Regions from separate parts of the Homo sapiens genome. Here region 2 is linked to region 1. A link means that fine-mapping ties the variant in region 1 to the expression of a gene that starts in the linked region. Tissue or cell type: pancreas. Region 1 holds a variant in brackets; the other region holds the start of a gene. All regions are shown on one strand. Distances are between the middles of the regions.

The links. PIP is the estimated chance that this variant, and not a neighbour inherited with it, causes the effect.
Region 2: NUP107 starts here. The variant in region 1 is fine-mapped to the expression of NUP107 in pancreas (GTEx, PIP above 0.99).

The regions. Positions count from the first base shown.
Region 1 is chr12:68,754,496-68,759,200 of GRCh38, forward strand. It overlaps SLC35E3 (solute carrier family 35 member E3), which reads left to right. Exons shown (of 5, transcript NM_018656.5): 4 at 4,662-4,705. Among named protein-coding and RNA genes, the nearest start is that of SLC35E3, 11 kb to the left of the region's middle. The variant A/G (reference allele first, on the strand shown) is at 2,659.
Region 2 is chr12:68,684,211-68,688,523 of GRCh38, forward strand. It overlaps NUP107 (nucleoporin 107), which reads left to right and starts at 2,768. Exons shown (of 28, transcript NM_020401.4): 1 at 2,768-2,863. The coding sequence starts at 2,856. LOC100507250 (a long non-coding RNA gene) reads right to left here and starts at 2,649. Exons shown (of 3, transcript NR_038930.1): 1 at 2,527-2,649; 2 at 1,653-1,807. It also overlaps the pseudogene RPL7P42.

The sequences.
Region 1 (4,705 bases):
GGCTGGTCTTGACCTCCTGACCTCAAGTGATCCACCCACCTCGGCCTCCCAAAGTGCTGGGATTACAGGCGTGAGCCGCCGCGCCCAGCCGGTGTCTGTGTAATAGCCCCTCTGCATATTCACTTTTTTCCCAGTTCTTTACCACTATGAACAATATTGTGATAAACATCCTTGTACATCATGTGTTCTCATGTACTGATAACTTTTTTCCTATGGAAATGAGTCCCAGGAGTGGAATTGGCAAATCAAGGGCATATGTATTTTGGGGACTTTTATTTTTTAGAGACAGTGTCTGGCTATGTTGCCCAGGCTGGCCTCAAGCTCCTGAGCTCAAGTGATCCCCCCAACCTCAGCCTCCCAAGCAGCTAGGACTAATGCGTTGGGGACATTTTAAGTTAGAATGTATAATCCTCCTATGTCTTAGTCAGTTCAGGCTGCTATAACAAAACTACAATGGACTGGGTGGCTTAAACAACAAATACTCATTTCTCACAGTTCTGAAGTCTGGAAGTCTGAGAACAGGCTGCCAGTATGGTTGGGTTCTTGGTGAAGGCTCTTTTCCTGCTTTATAGATGGCAGTCTTCTTGCCATATCCTCATCTGACAACAAGGAAGAGGAGAAGCAAGCTCTCTTGTATCTCTTCTTATCATAGGGACTAATCCCATTCATGAAGGCTCTGCCCTTATGCCATAGTCACCTCCCAAAGGCCCCACCTCCCAATACCATCACCTTGCGGGTGAGGATTTCAACATAGGAATTTTGGGGGGACACAAACATTCAGTCCATAATACCTTACTTATCAGGAATTCCTGCTTCCCACAAGAGTTCCCACAACTCTTGGAACACAGTCAGTGGGAATATCTTTTTTGTTGGTCGCATCAATTTATCAAGCACCTATATAGCCCTTAGTCTGTTCCCAGCACTATTCAAAGCACTATGTAAATATTAACTTATTTAATCTTCATAACTTTATTAGGTTGATGCTATACTAATACTATTTGTATTAGTCCATTTTATGATGTTATAAAAGCATACCTGAGACTAATTTATAAAGAAAAGAGGTTTATTTTGGCTTATGGTTCTGCAGACAGTACAAGAAGCATTAGTGCTGGCATCTACTTCTAGTGAGGGCCTCAGGAAGCTTACAGTCATGGTGGAAGGTGAAGGGGGAGCAGGCATGTCACATGGCGAGAGAGGGAGCAAGAGAGAGAGGGGAGGAAATGCCAGTCTCTTTTAAACAGCTAGCTCTCATGAGAACTAATAGAGCAAGAACTCACTCATTACCCTGGGGAGGGCACCAAGCCATTCATGAGGGATCCAGCCCCATAACCCAAACACCTTCTACTAGGCCTCACTTCCAACATTGGTGATCAAATTTCAACATGAGATTTGGAGGGAACAAACATCCAAACTATATTACCATTGTTATTATTTTTACTGATGAGGAAACCGAGAGATAAAGAGTTAGTAACTGGCTCGCAATCCCACAGCTAATAAGCAGAAACACAATTTGGATACATGCCTTCTGGGTCCAAAGTCTGTGTTCTCCAGTGCTCCGCTCTGCTTCCCCTAAGTAGACCAGTAGTTATTTCAAATTTATATATTTTACCATATACACTTTTTTTCTAAAGTAGAGGTCATTGGACCATCTATCAGATAATATTTCCACTTTGCAAAAGTCCTAGCCATCCTGGTTATCTGGTTTCAAACCATTGCAGCCTAGAGACCTTATACTACAAGGAGAGAGGATTTTTTTCGTAGCCTTCTAACAGGTTTTAAAATGAGGACAGCAGCAGAAAAGCCATTAAAAAAAAAAAAAAAAAAAGGCAAAGAAACCAAGACCACAGCAGGCTGAGGCCATTTAGTGTGAAGGAAAGTCATCTTCATTCCTTAATGTCCCTAGGAGGCATCCTTGACTCAAAGTAGAGGATTGTGTCAACTCAACTTTTTTTTTTTTTTTCCATATGAAGCCAGCATTACCCTAATACCAAAACCAGGAAAGGACACAACCAAAAAAGAAAACTAAAGACCAATATCCTTGATGAACATAGATGCTAAAATCCCTAACAAAATACTAGCTAACTGAATCTAATGACGTATCAAAAAGATAATCCACCATGATCAAGTGGGTTTCATACCAGGGATGTGGGGATGGTTTAACATACAAAAGTCAATAAATGTGATACACTATGTAAACAGAATTAAAAACAAAAATCACATGATCGGCCAGGCGCAGTGGCTCACCCCTGTAATCCCAGCAATTTGGGAGGTCAGGGCGGGCGGATCACGAAGTCAGGAGATTGAGACTAGCCGAGACCATCCTGGCTAACACGGTGAAACCCCGTCTCTACTAAAAATACAAAAACAAAATTAGCTGGGCGTGGTGGCTGGTGCCTGTAGTCTCAGCTACTTGGGACGCTGAGGCGGGAGAATGGCGTGAACCCGCGAGGCGGAGCTTGCAGTGAGCCGAGATCGTGCCACTGCACTCCAGCCTGGGCGACAGAGTGAGACTCCAAATAAATAAATAAATAAATAATGGCATGATCATCTCAATAGATGCAGAAAGAGCATTTGACAAAATTCAGCATCGCTTTATGATTAAAACCCTTGGCAAAATCGGCATACAAAGGACATACCTTAATTTAATAAAAGCCGTCT[A/G]TGACAGACCCTCAGCCAACATAATACTGAATGGGGAAAAGTTGAAAGCATTCCCTCTGAGAACTGGAACAAGACAAGGATGCCCACTCTTACCACTCCTCTTCAACGTGGAACTAGCTTCTTTATATTCTTCAAAGTCCGTAACAAAGACCCTAACAAAGTAGAGTAATTGTGTTTTTAATGATGTGCCAAGTATCAAGTTTAAGTTTTCTTTGGAACTTAAACTTCTTAATAGTTTATATCATGAATATCATTTTATCTAAATTCAGAAACAAAATGATTCTATAACTTTTTGGATAAAATTATGGGATAGATTTGAACAGAACTTTGTATGTGTATATAGTGGTCCAACCCATTTGTCCCCCTGTGCCCAGCCAAGTTATCTATAAAAAGGAATAATATTTTTACAACTACTTTGTGGATGTATGTGAAAATTAAATAAGTGAATACATGTAAAACAGAACAATTATTGGTGCATAATAAGTGTTATGTAAGTGTAAGCAGTGATCATCATGATTTTTATTATGTCCTCAAGTAGTTTCTAAGCTCTTTGAGGGCAGGAACTTTGTACATACTGCGTTCCTCAGAAGGCCTGGCCTAACTTTGTAGATATCCAATGAATGCTTATTGAGTTAAATAAGAATAAAAATGAGGCCAGGTGCAGTGGCTCAGGCCTGTAATCCCAGCACTTTGGGAGGCCAAGGGGTGCAGATCACCTGAGGTCAGGAGTTCGAGACCAGCCTGGCCAACATGGTGAAACCCCATCTCTACCAAAAAATTCAAAAAAAATTAGGTGGGTGTGGTGGCATGGGCCTGTAATCCCAGCTACTGGGGAGGCTGAGGCAGAAGAATCACTTGAACCTGGGAGGCAGAAGTTGCAGTGAGTCAAGATTGCACCACTGCACTCTAGACTAGGCGACAGAATGAGACTCCATCTCAAAAAAAAAAAAAGAATAAAAATGAGCAATTTAATAGAAAAAGATCTCGGCCGGGTGCAGTGGCTCACGCCTGTAATCCCAGCACTTTGGGAGGCCGAGGTGGGTGGATCATGAGGTCAGGAGTTCAAGACCAGCCTGGCCAAGATGGTGAAACCCATCTCTACTAAAAATACAAAAAATTAGCCGGGCGCAGTGGCAGGCGCCTGTAGTCCCAGCTACTCAGGAGAATGAGGAAGGAGAATCATTTGAATCTGGAGGGTGGAGGTTGCAGTGAGCCCAGATCGTGCCACTGCACTCCAGCCTGGGTGACAGAGTGAAACTCCGTCTCAAAAAAAAAAGAAAAAGATCTCGAAGGAGGTATGCCGAGATGTTAATGTGTGGGTGGTTGGGATTATAAGAATTCCTTATATTCTTTTTGCTTTTCTTTATTGTCTGATGTACAATAATAATAATGCATATGTATACTTTTTCTTTAGATTAATAAGAAAAATGAACCTGGAAATTCACAATCACAGAAAGGATGTTATTGCAGTATTTTTCGTTGATTCTTGTGGAAAAAATTACGTTTTTTCTAAACACGGTTCATTCTGCTTTTTTACTTGCAATTCTTACTGTCTCCCAACCCCAAATTCTCTTTCTTTTTTTTTTTTTTTTTTTTTTTTTTTTTTGAGATGGAGTCTTACTCTGTCGCCCAGGCTGGAGTGCAGTGGCGTGATCTCGGCTCACTGCAAGCTCCACCTTCCAGGTTCATGCCATTCTCCTGCCTCAGCCTCCCAAGTAGCTGGGACTACAGGCGCCCGCCACTGCGCCCAGCAAATTTTTTATATTTTTAGTAGAGATGGGGTTTCACCATGGTCTCGATCTCCTGACCTCGTGATCCGCCCGCCTTGGCCTCCCAAAGTGCTGGGATTACAGGCGTGAGCCACCGCGCCCGGCCCTCTCTTTCTAATCTTATTTATTAATGGTTGATATTTGAATTTTTTAAAATGCCGAATGAAATGTATCTTTGCTTGATGATTATGATTGCAGTGCTTTGCATTAATGGTTCTTTTGGTTTATTTGTAGCTTATGGTGCTGCTATCTGGAGTAATAGCTTTCATGGTGAACTT
Region 2 (4,313 bases), 70 kb before region 1:
GCAGCCTCGGCCTGCCAGGATCAAGTGATCCTCCTGCCTCAGCCTCCCAAGTAGCTGGGACCACAGGCACGTGTCACCACACGTGGCTAATTTTTAAAACTTATGTTAGAGACAGGGACTCCCTATGACATCTTGTTTAATCCTCACAACACCCCCTGACAAAGGTATTGTTTTCTCCACTCTACAGATGAGGAATCTGCAGGTGCAGGGGGGTTGAACCTAGATGGAGCCCAAAGCAATGTTTTTATCAAAATGCCATGTTGTCTGAGAGGGGATAATAAGGTATGAAGAGGCCTTCCGGGGAACTATGCTTCCCAGAATTACAGCAGAACATAAATGCCTAAGGCAAAACTTCCACTGATTTCCTCTTTCCCAGCTGAAACCATGGAGGGTATTGAAGACAAGAAAAAGAAGATTCCTGCTGTGCCAGAAACCCTTTAAAAATGTGAGGGAAGGCTGGGCACTGTGGTTCATGCCTGTAATCCCAGCACTTTGGGAGGCCGAGGCGGGTGGATCATGAGGTCAGGAGTTCGAGACCAGCCTGGCCAGCATGGTGAAACCCCGCCTCTACTAAAAATACAAAAATTAGCTGGGCATGGTGGTGCACGCCTGTAATCCCAGCTACTTGGGAGGCTGATGTACAAGAATCGCTTGAACCGGGGAGGCAGAGGTTTCAGTGAGCCAAGATTGCATCACTGCACTCCAGCCTGGGCAAAAGGGCAAGACTCTGTCTCAAAAAATAAAAATAAAACACATGAAGGAATTTCACAGAGCTAAAGGTCAAGTGCCTGAGAAAGAAGTTTGCCCATAAAATGCTTTGAAAAGAAAGGAGAAGGCCAGGCGCAGTGGCTCACGCCTGTAATCCCAGCACTTTGGGAGGCTGAGGCAGGTGAATCACCTGAGGTCAGGAGTTCAAGACCAGCCTGGACAACATGGTGAAACCCCATCTCTACCAAAAACGCAAAAATTAGCCGGGTGTGGTGGCAGACACCTGTAATCCCAGCTACTCAGGAGGCTGAGGCAGGAGAATCGCTTGAACCCAGGAGGCAGAGGTTGCAGTGAGCCGAGATGGCACCACTGCACTCCAGCCTGGGCAATGGAATGAGACTCCATCTCGAAAAAAAAGAAAAAGAAAAGCAAGGAGAAAGCTACATCTATGAAAAAGCTAGGCACTGTCAGATGTGGTGGCTAACCCCTGTAATCCCAGCACTTTGGGAGACCCAGGTAAGAGGATGGCTTGAGCCCAAGAGTTTGAGACCAGCCTGGGCAACAACATAAGACCCCATTTCTCCAAAATATTTTTAAAAAACGGGGGAGGAGAGGAGGTCAGGCATGGTGGTGCGTGCCTGTGGTCCCAGCAACCTCAGGTACTAGGGAGGCTGAGGTAGGAGGATTGCTGGAGCCCAGGAGGTCAAGGCTGCAGTGAGCCGTGACTGTGCCACTGCACGTAAGCCGGGACAATAGGACAAGATCCTGTCTCAAAAAAAAAAAAAACAAAGAAAGAAGGAAGGAAGGAAACATAATTTAAAAAATCAAGTCCAAAAAAAAGCAAGCAAGAAGTAAAAAAAAAAAGCTCAGCACTGTCACAAGAAATATATGGCAAGAAAAGCTGGCAATTTCTATATACCTGTGAAACCCAAATTGTCACTTGCCTTAAGGATCAAATGTATCAATGGTGTGAGCCCAAAACTCTGTTGCAACTTCTTCACTTTCCCCAGATCTTCAATGGCAGCTTTGTTAAACTCAACAAGGCTTCAGTTAACACGCTGAGGATTGTGGAACCATATATCACATGGAGTACCTGAACCTGAAATCAGTAAATGAACTGATCTACAAATTGGTTATGGCAAAATCAATAAACAAATTACCTTAACAGATAACGCTTTGATTGCTAGATTTCCTGATAAATATGGCATCATCTGACTGGAGAATCTGATTCATGAGATCTATGCTGTTGAAAAACTCAAGTTCCTGTGATCCTTCAAATTATCTTCTCCACGAGGGAGAATGAAGGACTACCTATTTTGTATTAATAAAAGGTATAAATGCCAGCAACAGAAAAGACTATATCAACAGGCTTATTAAACGGATAAACTGAAGCATCTAACATTATTTTTGTAATCTGGTCAGTTAATAGCCAGTCACTACTTTCAAACTGGAAAAAACAAAAACCAAAACAAAAATGTGACTGACTCCTTCAAGACCAAAATACACCACTTTTTGCCTAGACGGCACTTTGAAATAGAGGGCAATACCATCATATTTCACGCTTGCCTTTCTACTTTTTAATACAGGTGAACTTTTTCTCCTTAATAGGAAAGAACACCAAGTAAAGAACAAATAGCAGTTATGGAAAATAGTTGCAAAAACTGCAGGGGGCTACAGAACAAAGGACTGAGTGTAGGCAGAGAGATAGAGATCCCCGAGGTGTGGGGCAGAGCCCACGCATCTGAATTCCAAGAACAGGCGCTTTCTGACAGAGAATACCAGGAAATGACTTCACATTTTTCCAGACTATCAACATACTTCATTCTTCCCAGTAGGAGAACCCAGGGCCTGTTCCACGCCCACAGACTTTGGTCAGGCAAAGCGGCCGCAGGGCGTCTGGGCTAAACGCAACCAGGAACACATTGGCAAACTTTTGCGCCTGCGCCCACCGGGCGTGCACCTGTAGGCTGAAGTCGCGCATGCGCTAGATGGGAACGTTGTTTCTTCTCCCCTACCCCTTTTCTGTGGGTCTGTTTTAGGGACAGACTGCTTCCGGGTCGAAGGGCTTGCTTCCGGAGAGCGGGAAGGCTAAAACGCGGTAGCTAAACTGCAGCCAACTTTGGTTGTGTGTGGAAAAGGCTTTAGCCATGGACAGGTCAGTACTGATGGTGGCAGCTGAGCCCGAAGTCTTGCCCGTCTCGCCTGTTGGCGAAACGAAATAGGTGAAACTAGACTCCCAGAAGAAGCCAAGGAGGTCCCGGGTGCTTCCCCTAAGGCTCCTTCCCCATGCCGGGAAATTTGGCCACAAATGGGGAAAAAGCCGCTTGGCGTGCGTCGGGGTGGGGTACAGATCATAATAGTCCCTTACTTTCCCACTACGTTCTGCGATCTATTCGGCGCTTTGGGGCAGCAACACTGTTCGCTCCTGGGGTGGGCGGGGTAGGTAGCGCGGCGTTCGAAATGCTAAGTGACCAGCCTGAGATCACAAAGCCAGTCAGTGAAGATACTGGGATCTCAGCCCAGACTTTCTGATTACAAGTGCCAGCATCAGATTCTGAGTTCCCTCTATGATCTGGGTACTGTGCTAGCCGCCTACAACAAAGATCAGTTATTCAAGATCCTTCCCCTCGGGGAATTAGTTGTGTAATGGAGACAACCAAGCAGTGTAAAGTGGTAAGTGTTTGGGGGCGATTAAGTCTCCTTGTCACTGTAACTATCAGGAAGACCCCTCAAAGAAGGTAACTTTCTAGCTGGTCTTTGAATAATAAGAGTACATTATTCGTACTCCAAACATTGAGTACCTACTATGTGACTGCCATTGTTCTAAAGGCGTTGAATATATATTATTAGCTTATTTAATCTTCAGAACAAGAAAAATCCTATGAGATGGGTACTGTTATCCTTTTTTCATATATAACACTGAGACTAAAAGAGGTTAAGGAACTTGCTGAAAGTTCGGAAGCTAATAAATACAAGAACCAAATTGCCAACCTGCATCTGTGTGTCTCCAGCCTACCTGAGGCTCTTTGAGGAGTAAGTAGTTGTTGACCAGGTGCTCAAGGGGGCAAATGTAGGTCTTTGTAAAAGAAGCATATTCAGAGGTGCTAGGATATGAAAAAAAAGTACGTGTAGCTCAGTGGTCACATGCAGTATACGTTTAAAGTGATGTTTGTGGCTGAATAGAAGACTGAACCCCTAAACTGGGGTCACATTGTAAATATCATTTTAGGAAATTTTTACTTCTATAGACCAGAGAGCTATCTGAAGGTTTTTTTTTTTGTTTTTAATTTTAATTGTTAAACGTTTAAAATTGTTTCTATGTGGTTGTTTCCCATACTTTCCTGCTGAAGGAATATCTGAAGGTTTTAAGTGGAGGAAAAGCATATTAGATTCTTGTCTTAAACACAGGCCTTTTAGTCCGCACAATTTAGTTTCTAGACCTTTGAGTGAAACTGACAGGGAGTGTTGTGATGGGACAGGAGACCTCCTGGGTTGAAATAACTTGAAGGGTCATTTTGCTCCAATTTACCACAATTCTTTTACTTACCCTTCTATCTCACAAGCTCTGTTTGTTGTTGTTGTTGCAAGCTCTGTTTGTTGTTGTT